Regions from separate parts of the Homo sapiens genome. Here region 1 is linked to region 2. Evidence: fine-mapped expression QTL. A gene starts in region 2. The other region holds a variant in brackets. All regions are shown on one strand. Distances are from middle to middle.

The links. PIP is the estimated chance that this variant, and not a neighbour inherited with it, causes the effect.
Region 1: its variant is the best candidate, but not a certain one, in a credible set for the expression of ZBED4 in neutrophils (Naranbhai 2015, PIP 0.67).

The regions. Positions count from the first base shown.
Region 1 is chr22:49,889,605-49,894,973 of GRCh38, forward strand. ZBED4 (zinc finger BED-type containing 4) reads left to right here. Exons shown (of 2, transcript NM_014838.3): 2 at 1-476. It also overlaps a transcript of ALG12 not described here. Among named protein-coding and RNA genes, the nearest start is that of ALG12, 26 kb to the right of the region's middle. The variant CA/C (reference allele first, on the strand shown) is at 2,583.
Region 2 is chr22:49,851,062-49,856,430 of GRCh38, forward strand. ZBED4 (zinc finger BED-type containing 4) reads left to right here and starts at 2,783. Exons shown (of 2, transcript NM_014838.3): 1 at 2,783-2,928. It overlaps LOC105377205 (a long non-coding RNA gene), which reads right to left and starts at 2,451. Exons shown (of 5, transcript NR_188597.1): 1 at 1,375-2,451; 2 at 21-146. LOC124905147 (a long non-coding RNA gene) reads right to left here. Exons shown (of 2, transcript XR_007068156.1): 2 at 3,441-4,225. RefSeq lists silencers at 2,131-2,220, 2,241-2,970, 3,141-3,430.

The DNA of each region.
Region 1 (5,369 bases), 39 kb after region 2:
CTGAATGACACTAGGAGAGTCATTTTATCTCATACATTCCCTTCATTTCGTTGGTGGACATTTGTTGAAACCGGCACTCAATGGTCAAACCGTCTCTGCCCTCCAGTTGCTGACAGTCCTGCAGGAAGATGGACAAGAGGCCCAGTGCTGACAGTCACACGACTCTCACTACTTGAATGAGGGGACTGTGGGTGCAACTAGAAAATATGTTGATTCTTAGCCATTCCCACCTTGCCTCTCCGTTCAGAACCCCAGCTGCGAGCTGTTTGTTTCCCTGCCTGGAAATGATGTTTTAGGCAGGTTCCTTAATTTCTCAGGTCTGTCTCAGATAATAAAAAGCTCTTTGTATGAGCCTCAGAACTGTCTCTTCAGTGAATGAAATTACCAGTCATTATACGAAGGGACTTTAAAAAATTTGTGGAAATACTGAAGTAAAAGATGATAAAAAAATAAAAACTTTATTTCTTGGCTGGGCACAGTGGCTTATGTTTGTAATCCCAGTACTTTGGGAGGCTGAGGTGGGAGGACTGCTTGAGGCCAGGAGTTCAAGAAATTAGCCAGGTTTGGTAGTGCATGCCTGTAGTCCCAGCTACTTGGGAGGCAGAGGGAGGAGGATTACTTGAGCCCAGGAGTTTGAGGTTGCAGTGAGCTGTGATCACACCACTGCACTCTAGCCTGGACAACAGAGCAAGATCCTCTCTCTTAAAACCACCAACAATGACAACAACAAAACAACATTTTTATTTCTCAATGTAAGCTCCATCAAGATCAAGATACTTTTGTAAGCTGTGACACCAGCCATTTAGTCCACCTCTAAAGAATTGCAGGCTCTGGGAATTTAACCATGTCAGTGCAGCCTTTTTAACATTATTAACGGAAGAAAAAATGAGTGCTTTTAAAGATTTTTTAAAATGAGGAAACAAAGTCAGAAGGAGCAAAATCGGGACTGTAAGGTGGATGCCTAATGATTTCCCAACAAAACTCTTGAAGAATTGCCCTTATTTGATGAGAAGAATGAGCCAGGAGCATTGTCATCGTGGAGAAAGACACTGATGAGGCTTTCCTGGGTGTGTTTTTGCTAAAGCTTCGGCTAACTTTCTCAAAACACTCTCATAATAAGATGTTATTGTGGCCAGATGCGGTGGCTCACGCCTGTAATCCCAGCACTTTGGGAGGCTGAGGTGGGCAGATCACGAGGTCAGGAAATCGAGACCATCCTGGCTAACATGGTGAAACCCCGTCCCGTCTCCACTAAAAATACAAAAAATTAGCTGGGCGTGGTGGCAGGCACCTCTAGTCCCAGCTACTCCAGCTACTCGGAAGGCTGAGGCAGGAGAATGGCGTGAACCTGGGAGGCAGAGCTTGCAGCTAGCTGAGATTGTGCCACTGCACTCCAGCCTGGGCGACAGAGCGAGACTCCATCTCAAAAAAAAAAAAAAAATGTTCTTTGGCCCTCCAGAAAGTCAACAAGCAAAATGCATTGAGCATCCCAAGAAACTGTTGCCATGACCTTACTTTGACTTGTCCACATTTGCCTTGACTAGGCCACTTCTACCTCTTGGTAGCCATTGCTTTGATTGTGGTTTGTCTTCAGGATGGTACTGGTAAAGTCCTGTTCCATCTCCTGTTATAATTCAAGGAAATGCTTCAGGGTCTTGATGCCACTTGTTTAAAATTTCCATTGAAAGCTCTGCTCTTGTCTGCAGCTGATCTGGGCACAACGGTTTTGGCACCCATCGAGTGGAAAGCTTGCTCAACTTCAATTTTGAACCAGTTGAGATGTCTGTGGTCTTGGCTATTGTTCTGTTAATCGTCAGTCCTCTTTAATCAGAGCATGAACAAGATCAATATTTTCCTTGCAAATTGATGTGGATGGTCTGCCACTGTGGTCTTCATCTCCAATGTTGTCTTGATCCTTCTTAAAACGAGGTATCTATGTGTATACTGCTGACTTCTTTAGGGCACTGTCCTCATACACTTTTTGTAAAGCATCATGATTTTCACCATTCTTCCACCCAAGGTTCACTATAGATTTGATGCTTGTTTTTGCTTCAGTTTTTGCAGAATTCATGTTCTGCTAGGAGCCCTTTTCAAACTGATTCTTACTGCCTCAAACTAGATCTATTCAGGCATGTTCTAACAAGTTAGTATGAGTTTATTTTGGAGCAAAAGAATTTTGAAATGCATGCATAGTTTTGTCATAATATGCATTTTCCATGAACTTTTTGAAGACCACTCCTGCAATAATAAAACATTGAACTTCATTTAAAGCTAAAATTCCCTTCTCTTCCACTTCTGACTATGAGGCAGCAACTGCTATCAGACCAAACCTTTCCCAAGAACTATCAAGGCCATATAAAATATATTTTTAAAAAGAGCTTTTTGCATCCTGGCTAAAACAGTGAAACCCCGTCTCTACTAAAAATACAAAAAATTAGCTGGGTGTGGTGGTGGGCGTCTGTAGTCCCAGCTACTCTGGAGGCTGAGGCAGGAGAATGGCGTGAACCTGGGAGGCAGAGGTTGCAGTAAGCCGAGATCGTGCCACTGCACTCCAGCCTGGGCGACAGAGCAAGACTCTGTCT[CA/C]AAAAAAAAAAAAAAAAAAAAAAAACTTTTTGAAGACATCAGAGAGTAAGACAGCCAGGATTTGAAGAAACAAAATCCTAGTAAGATGAGACTTGCATAAAGGTGAGTCCTGTGTTCACAACATTTTTTCCTGTTGGGCCATTTGCTGGTGTCCTGCCCTAAGGCCTGACAGAAGGTGGCAACCAGAGCTGGCGTGGTGTCACTGGGCTGGGAGACCGGCAGCAACACACAAGCTGTCATGTTGGCCAGGATGCCAGGAGCCTCAGAGAAGTGGCCGAATTCCCAGTGTGCAGCTTCCCCTGCAGCAGGTGCCTATTCCTGGTTGCTGCTTGTGCTTGAGGCAAGAGGCTTGGAAACCCAAATATAGCAGCAAAAGGCTGGAAAGCTGAGACATCTTTGGGCAAGGGAGACAAAACTTGGGACTTCAGTGCCTGCCATTGAGAAAACTCTGAGGTTTCCAGGTGAGTCCCCTGAAGGGCAAACTGGAGAGGGACCAACCCTCACCAAGTCTGGACATGGCTTGAGCCATCTCAGCCTTGATTGCATCAGGGCGATCTGCCTCACCTTTCTGCTAGAGGAAAACTAAATTTTCTTTCAATGAAAACATCAGAGCTCCTATAACTTTACAGATAAACAGTTTGACTCTCATAAAAAAATTATGAGACACACTGAAAAAAAGGACTAAGTGACTGAAAAGAGAATCATAAGACAATAGAAATAGTCTCACAGGTGATCCAAATACTGGAGTTTTCAGACACGGACTTTATGATTTATACATTCAATAATATGGATGAGAAGGTGGAGAATGCCACCAGAGAGAATCTGTAAACGTGCTAATGCTGAAAAACACAACGATGAATGAAGAATTCCCTAGATGTAGTTAGTACCAAATTAGGCTTATAGATGAAAGGATTACTGAATTGGAAGACAAGCCAGTAGAAAACATTCATCTTGAAGTACAGAGAGATGAAAAGTGCCTGAGAGACACAGCGCAAGAGAAAAGACTAGCACACAGCTGACGGGAGTCCCAGAAGAGGAGAGAGAAGGGGTGGAGCGCCATTTGGATGAGATCACAGCTGAGGACTTTCCAGAACTGTTGGGACATCAGCCATAGGTGTCAATATCTTTGAACCCCAATGAGGATAAATTGAAAATAACAACCTGCACCTAGGCACATCATGGCAAAGTGCTGAAACCCAAAGAGAAAGAGACAACCTTAAGCAGAGGGAGGGAGGAGAGACACTTTTACCTTCAGAGGAGCAATAAAGCTGGCAGCTGACTCTCTAAAACAAATAGTTGGAATGGTGGAGTGGCTTTTTTTAAATGCTGAAAGGAAATAATTACCAATCTAGATTTATATACCCAGTGAGAAGATTCCTCAAAAGTGAGGATGAACTTAAGTTTTTGGACAAAACAAAAAATTGCAGAAACTTGTCACCAGCCAACCAGCCCTAAAATATATCCTGGAGGGAATTCTCCAGGTGGACACTTGATGTGGGAAGGAACAAGGAATACTCCTGAAAGGAGCAGAAACGGGAAAGCTAAATAAATAATAGACTGCCTAAAACTATCTCTTAGAGTTCAAAATACAGGTAGACTTAAGATACATGGACAGTAAGGACAAAAGGTGGGAGGGAAATAAAGGATTGCACCATCCTGCAAGGGGTGAAAGTATGGATTTCAAGTAGATTCTGGGCCAGGTGCAGTGGCTCACACCTGTAATCCCAGCACTTTGGGAGGCCAAGGCAGGCGGATCACCTGAGGTCAGGAATTTGAGACCAGCCTGGCCAACATGATGAAACCCCGTCTTTACTGAAAAAACAAAAAATTAACTGGGCCTGGTGACGCATGCCTGTAATCCCAGCTACTCGGGAGGTTGAGGCACGAGAATTGCTTGAACCCAGGAGGCGGAGGTTGCAGTGAGCCGAGATGGCACCACTGCATTCTAGCCTGGGCGACAGAGCAAGACTTCATCTCAAAAAAAATAATAAAGTAGATTCTGACATCAGACGTGATCTCTAGGGTAACCGCTAAAAGCAATAAACATGTTGATGAAACTGGACTAATACCTACTTTCACTAATCCCAAAGAAGGTAAGAAAGGAAAAATAACCAGATGGGACACATAGGAAACAGAGGCAAATGGTAGCTTTAAACCAAATGTGTCAGCAAGCATATTAAATGTAAGTGGAATGCAAACTCCAATTAAGTGTGTTAGATTGGATAGACAAAACCCAGCTATGTTCATTCACAGGCTTCACATATCGAGTCCAAGGATGCAGAGTGAATGCGAGAGGCCAGAAGCCAGGGCACCACCCACACATCTGCTACAGCTGTTCACATCTGACAGCACGGCCTCAGGCAGGAGGACTCATTAGAGATGGAGGGACAGCTCAGTGACCAAGTGGTGAGGTTAATGGGATGACACAACAATGCTAAACATAAAAGCACCAAAGAACACAACTCCAAAATGTGACTGGAACAGAAAGAACTAAGAGGAGAAATAGACAATCACAGTGAGAGATCTGAACACTTGCCTCAGCAGCAAATAAAGTGAGTGTTGTTCCAGAATGTGTCCTGACTGACCACTCCCTCTGGCCCCAGTGACCATCCTGCCGGACGGCCGTCTCCTCCCTGGTTGAGCAGCCTTGAGCAAGGGTAGCAGTGGGCAGTGTGTGGAGGCCAGAGGCCTCTCACGTCCACCCACCCCAAAGGCACTGCCCTGGGGGACAGCTGAGTGAGGAGAGAGGGAGACACCCTTGAAGCAGGGAGGGGAGAGTTGGAGGG
Region 2 (5,369 bases):
TCCCATGAAAAGCCACTTACATGTTTGGATGGTCCTGTAGAAAATATTTTTTCTTCTCCTTATCGCAGTCTCTATGATGCATAAGAATGCAATTTAAGACAAACAGCAAATAAATACCATCTGTGTATGTACCAAGCACTTGCAGACTGAAAAAAAAAAAAGAAAAAGAAAAAATAAGATATTGTATCTTGGGCACACAGAAAGTGCCCATCAAAGATTAAATGAATGGACTGCAGCTGGTGGAGGCATGGGGTACTGGCTTGCCGAAACAGTCCCAGTTGATGCTGGGTCCTGGCCCCATGATGTCTAGTGTGCCCTTCCATGCTCCAGGGTGCCCCATTTGGGCACTTAGTCCAAGGGCCACCCGACATACAAAACAGTATCTTCCTGTGAGGGGCCAGAGAATAGGCCGCACCTGGCTGCCCTGCACAATTTGGAAGGCACTAGGAGGGACCTGTCAACCTGCACTCACTCACTCACCGGCAGGCCCCTTTGGGAAGAGCTGTTGCTCTTTGGCCCCAGGAATCTTCTATTTCTGCACATGAGTGCCAGGCAATTGTGGGGCCCCATTAACCTACTCCACAAAGCGTAGGGGGCCTTGCTCTCGGCACTGGGCATGCTCCCTCAGCACATACAACAAAGAAGTCCCCCCTCCCACTGATTCTAGCAGGAGGCTGTTGGGGGGCAGTCATGACACAGGCATATACAGTGTGTCAGATGTGTCAGAGCCCGGAGAGGGGATGAGGAGAGCGCAGTGTTACTTCCTAGAGCATGGCCCCGGAGAGCCTCCCACTATGCTGACATATGGGCAGCCGTCTGGGAGCTTGACACTGGCAGAGGGGAAGAGCAGTCCAGGCAGACAAGAAGTCAGTGCGAAGACCCCAAAGCAAGCATCAAGGAGGCTGGGGGCTGCTGCAGATCTGATGAGGGGATGGCAGGGGCAGAGCAGGCCTGAGAACACTGGCCTCCACTCTGAATGAAACAGGGATCCCCAGGCCGGGCACGGTGGCTCATGCCTGTAATCCCAGCACTTTGGGAGGCCAAGGCGGGCGGATCACAAGATCAGGAGATCGAGACCATCCTGGTCAACATGGTGAAACCCCATCTCTACTAAAAATACATAAATTAGCTGGGCGTGGTGGCGAGCGCCTGTAGTCTCAGCTACTCTGGAGGCTGAGGCAGGAGAATCGCTTGAACCCGGGAGGCGGAGGTTGCAGTGAGCCGAGATCACGCTACCGCACTCCAGCCTGGGGACAGAGCGAGACTCTGTCTCAGAAAGAAAAAAAAAAGAAAAAGAAAGAAACAGGGAGCCCTTTTTGGGTGTCAGTGCCTGGTCTCAACTCCATAGCTATGGTGGAAGGTAAAGCAGTTTACCTTTTAACTACATGAACAAGCATGGTGGTGTTCCAGTTGAACTCCTTAGGAAACCGACATTTTAATTTAATTTTTTTTTGGAGACGGAGTCTTGCTCTGTCACCCAGACTGGAGTGCAGTGGCGCGATCTCGGCTCACTGCAACCTCTGCCTCCCGGGTTCAAGCGATTCTTCTGCCTCAGTCTCCCGAGTATCTGGGATTACAGGAGCCCACCACCACGTCTGGCTAATTTTTTATTTTTTTTCAGTAGAGACGGGGTTTCTCCATGTTGGCCAGGCTGGTCTCGAACTCCTGATCTCAGGTGATCCACCCGCCTCGGCCTCCCAAAGTGCAGGGATTACAGGCGTGAGCCACCGTGCCCGGCCGATATTTGAATGTCATATACTTTTCATATATGCTAAAATACTGTTTTAATTCTCCCCCAACCTCTTAAAAACGAGAAAAGCATTCTTAGCTCAGGCACCATAGAAAACCCGGCTGCAGGCTGGACGTGGACTTTGGAACAGTCGGCGTGCGGGTGAAGGGGCACAGCCGCGGGGCAGGGGCGGGCTCCGGGCAGAGGCGGCCGTGATAACTCCACGCTCCCGCTCCAGCCGGTGACCGCCACGCGGGCTCCTCTCACTCTCACACTCAGGCCGAGAAAATGCCGAAAGCCGTGTCACCAACGGGGGACCTCGGGGCCACATTCAGCATGCAGAGTTTATTTGGTCTGCTCAAACATTTGTGTTAGGAAATAACACATTAAAAGTGCACATTTCCTTCAGACCCTGAGAAGCGGGCGAGTCCCGTGCGCTCCGCACCGCCAGCCCCGGCCCCGCGCTCGCCCAGAGGGCCGCCCTCCTCCCGCCGACCCGGCTTGGGGCTTAGGCGTTAATCCCGTCCCCCGGGGGGGCCGCGCGGGGAGCCCCGATCGCCTTAGGGTCAACGGCTTAGGTCCCAGCCCACGAGGCCTGACCGCACCGCACTGAGCGGCCTCTGCGCCAGGTAAGGGGGTTCGGGGCGGGACCGGGAACCGCGCTGCTAGCCGTCCCGGAAACCCGCGGTGGGCCGTTGGGTGCGCGCCGAGCCGCTGCCAACTGCCAAGCCACGGGACGAAACCAAGGCGCCCGCGCCCCGCCCAGCCAGAGCGCCTAAGCCCTTCCCGTCGCCCGCCAGCGCCGGAGCGCCCACTGCGCCTGCGTAGTTTGCCCTCCTGGACCCGGGGGCGGAGCCGAAGCGCGCATTGCGCCTGCGTCTTCCGCCCGACCCCGCCCCAGCGGCCGGGCCTCCGGCGCTCCGTCCTCCCGCCCGGCCAGGGACGAGGCGGGGCGGGTACGCGGACACTGCGCCTGCGAGAGTAGGCCCCGCCCCCGATCGGCCCCGCCCCCGGCCAGCCCCGCCCCGCGCCGCGCGGGGCCCTGGGAGGGGCGCAGCGTCCGGCGGCGTCGCGGGCGGCGGGCGGCGGGGCCGCGGGAGGGGCGCGGGGGCAGACAAAGCCGCGGTAATGAATGGAGCGTCCGCCCGCGCCGCCGTCGTCCGCAGCCGGCCGGGAGCCGCCCCAGAGGCCGGGCCGAGGTGAGTGCGCGGGCGCCGCCGCCCCGCCGCCTGCCGCGAGCCCCGTCCCCCGCGGACCGCGCCGGGGCCGGGCCGGGCCGCGCCATTGTCTGCGCCGCGCCGGGGCCAGGGCCGGGGCCAGGCGGGCGGGGGCGCGGTTCCGTGGCCTCGGGGTCCCCGCCCGGCGCCGCCCCGGACCCGCCCCCGCGCGGACCCCGGCCCTGACAGCTGGCGCGGGGGCGGCGCCGACTGAGCGGCCGAGTGCCGGGGGTCGGCGCCCGGCCTGGCCCACGTGCCCGCGCCGTTGCTTCCGGGCGGACGGGACGGGGCTCGGGCTCGGGGCGCCGCCCGGGTCCGCCGGGAGCGCGCTGTCCCGGCCACGTCGAGTTAACCCCGCGAGCCCCGTCCCTGGGACTTCTCTGGACGTGTCATTCCCGTCCCACCTCCAGGAAGGGCCACCTGGGCCCTGCTTCATGTCTCAGCCCAGACGGGTCCTTGCGACGCGCCCCGAGGCAGGTTATTGTACGTGGTTCTGGGGATGACCGTTCACATTTAATGAATAAAAATGTAACTTGCCTTGCGAACCATAATTTCAAATGTTTTTCGACTGCAGTGGTTTTCCTACACCCAAATGAGCTCGCAGTCAGTTTTGTTTCTTCTTTTGTCCCGTTGTGTGGCCCACACCGCCTTCGTTGCTAAGAGAATCGCAGCCCCTCGGGCTCCCTTCTGCGCCTTTCTATTCCGGGTGGCCCTGGTAGACCCGGGCACCTCTGTGGAAACACGTCCCGGCCAAGCTGAGCCGTCAGAAGCTTCTGTTGGTGTTCTCGTGTTGGTCGAAAGGGAAGTTATTTATTTTGAAGTTAACTCTGATCAGATTACGTTTTTAGAAATCCATTCAGACCTCATAGTGAGGCCAGTTTGGTAAAGCAAGGGCATCCTGCGACTTTTTACACAGAAATGTTTTTTATTTTTTCTGTGTATGTCATTCATAGTGACAAAATTGAGGCTAGGAAGGATTTGGTTGGGATTTTTTTTTAAGTGCTATGAATAAGCCACATTTTGATTATGAATTAATTGCAATTACTAAACAAAGTTACTTTGCAAGAGGAAAGTTTACAGGAGTTTGATTCCATACTCCGAGGGTTTCCAATGGGACGTCCGTACAAGGCTGCACACTTCCCGTAGTCCTTAAACGGATTATATCTGCTTGTCATGATTGGCTTTTTTTCAAGAAAAGATCTAGCACAAGTTAAGAGAGATTCTGTGAATCTTGAAAAAGCTTCAGAGGCCCGGTCTTTGAGGTGAGGACACAGTTAATCTATATGGAAAGAAACCTAAGACTTTTAGTCCACTTGACAGGTGGTTACAGGGTCTCCCCCAACACACACTCTTGTCCAGGTAATTCCTGAATAAGGTGGTTGATGTTGTTGGATGTAAAACCTCTGCTCTTTAAGGTTACCTCCTCCCCAACCCCCTCCACACACACAGTGAGTAACTCAGCTGTGCAAAGTATGTCCATAACACCTTGCAGAAAGACTAAAAAAATTACTAGGGGAGCGGACTGACTTCTGTGTGTGTGCAGAGGAGCTGAGAAGCAGCTTCTTTAGCGAAAGGTGTGTGTGTGTGTGTGTCTCAGATCCTTGGTGAGGAGCCCTGGGGAGTGGACTCCTGGCGGCATGAGGAGCAGGAAGTGACCGTGGTCAGTGCCGTCCTTCACTTTGTTTTGCGTTTTTTTCTTTGCCTGGCTTTAGCTTCTGGTCTCATTCTCTTTGGTGTGGTGGTTGTCTTTTGAGAGGAGGGAGCAGGTGAAACAGCTGGGCGTGGCTTTGCCCAGCCCTGGGGTAGAGGCCAAGCTGGCCCTTCCTTACCAACGTTGTTTCCTTCACTGTTTAAATCTCAGGACCTGAGAATGTACCTATAGGAATTGCTCTTATTTACATTTGGCTGTGTAAGAAAGTCACTGTGCCTTTAGCCCGTGACACCCCTTAGCGGTTTGGTTTTGGCTTTCTCTTTTAGTGTCTGTGGATTCCAGCAGCTCTCTGGCTTCAGCCCTTTCAAGGATTCGGGCCTCTCTGCATCCCAGCCTTCCAGGCCCTTCTGCTCCCCACTTTTTAGCACCTAGGTTTTTCTACATTCTGCAGTACCTCAGATCCCTTCCTTGGTCATCACTGGATATGTGCTTTTGTAGTTCAAATTCTGGGAGGCATTGTTAGGAATAAAATAAGCTCTTTGCCATTTCTGAGGCGGAGGGGAGCAGGAGAGACAGAGGTGCTTGCCTCTCTGCCTGCTGGGGCCATGGTGGTTTTCAAAGAAGGCCCTGGCCGTAGGGAACATGGTGGTGGTGAGGAGCAGCGTAAACCAGAGAAAAAGGCTCAGTAAGTGCTTCAAGGAGAAACACCGGCAGGTGAGAGCAGGGGTAATCCCAGTTTCTCAGGAAAGCATGCTCCGGAGACCTCATAGGG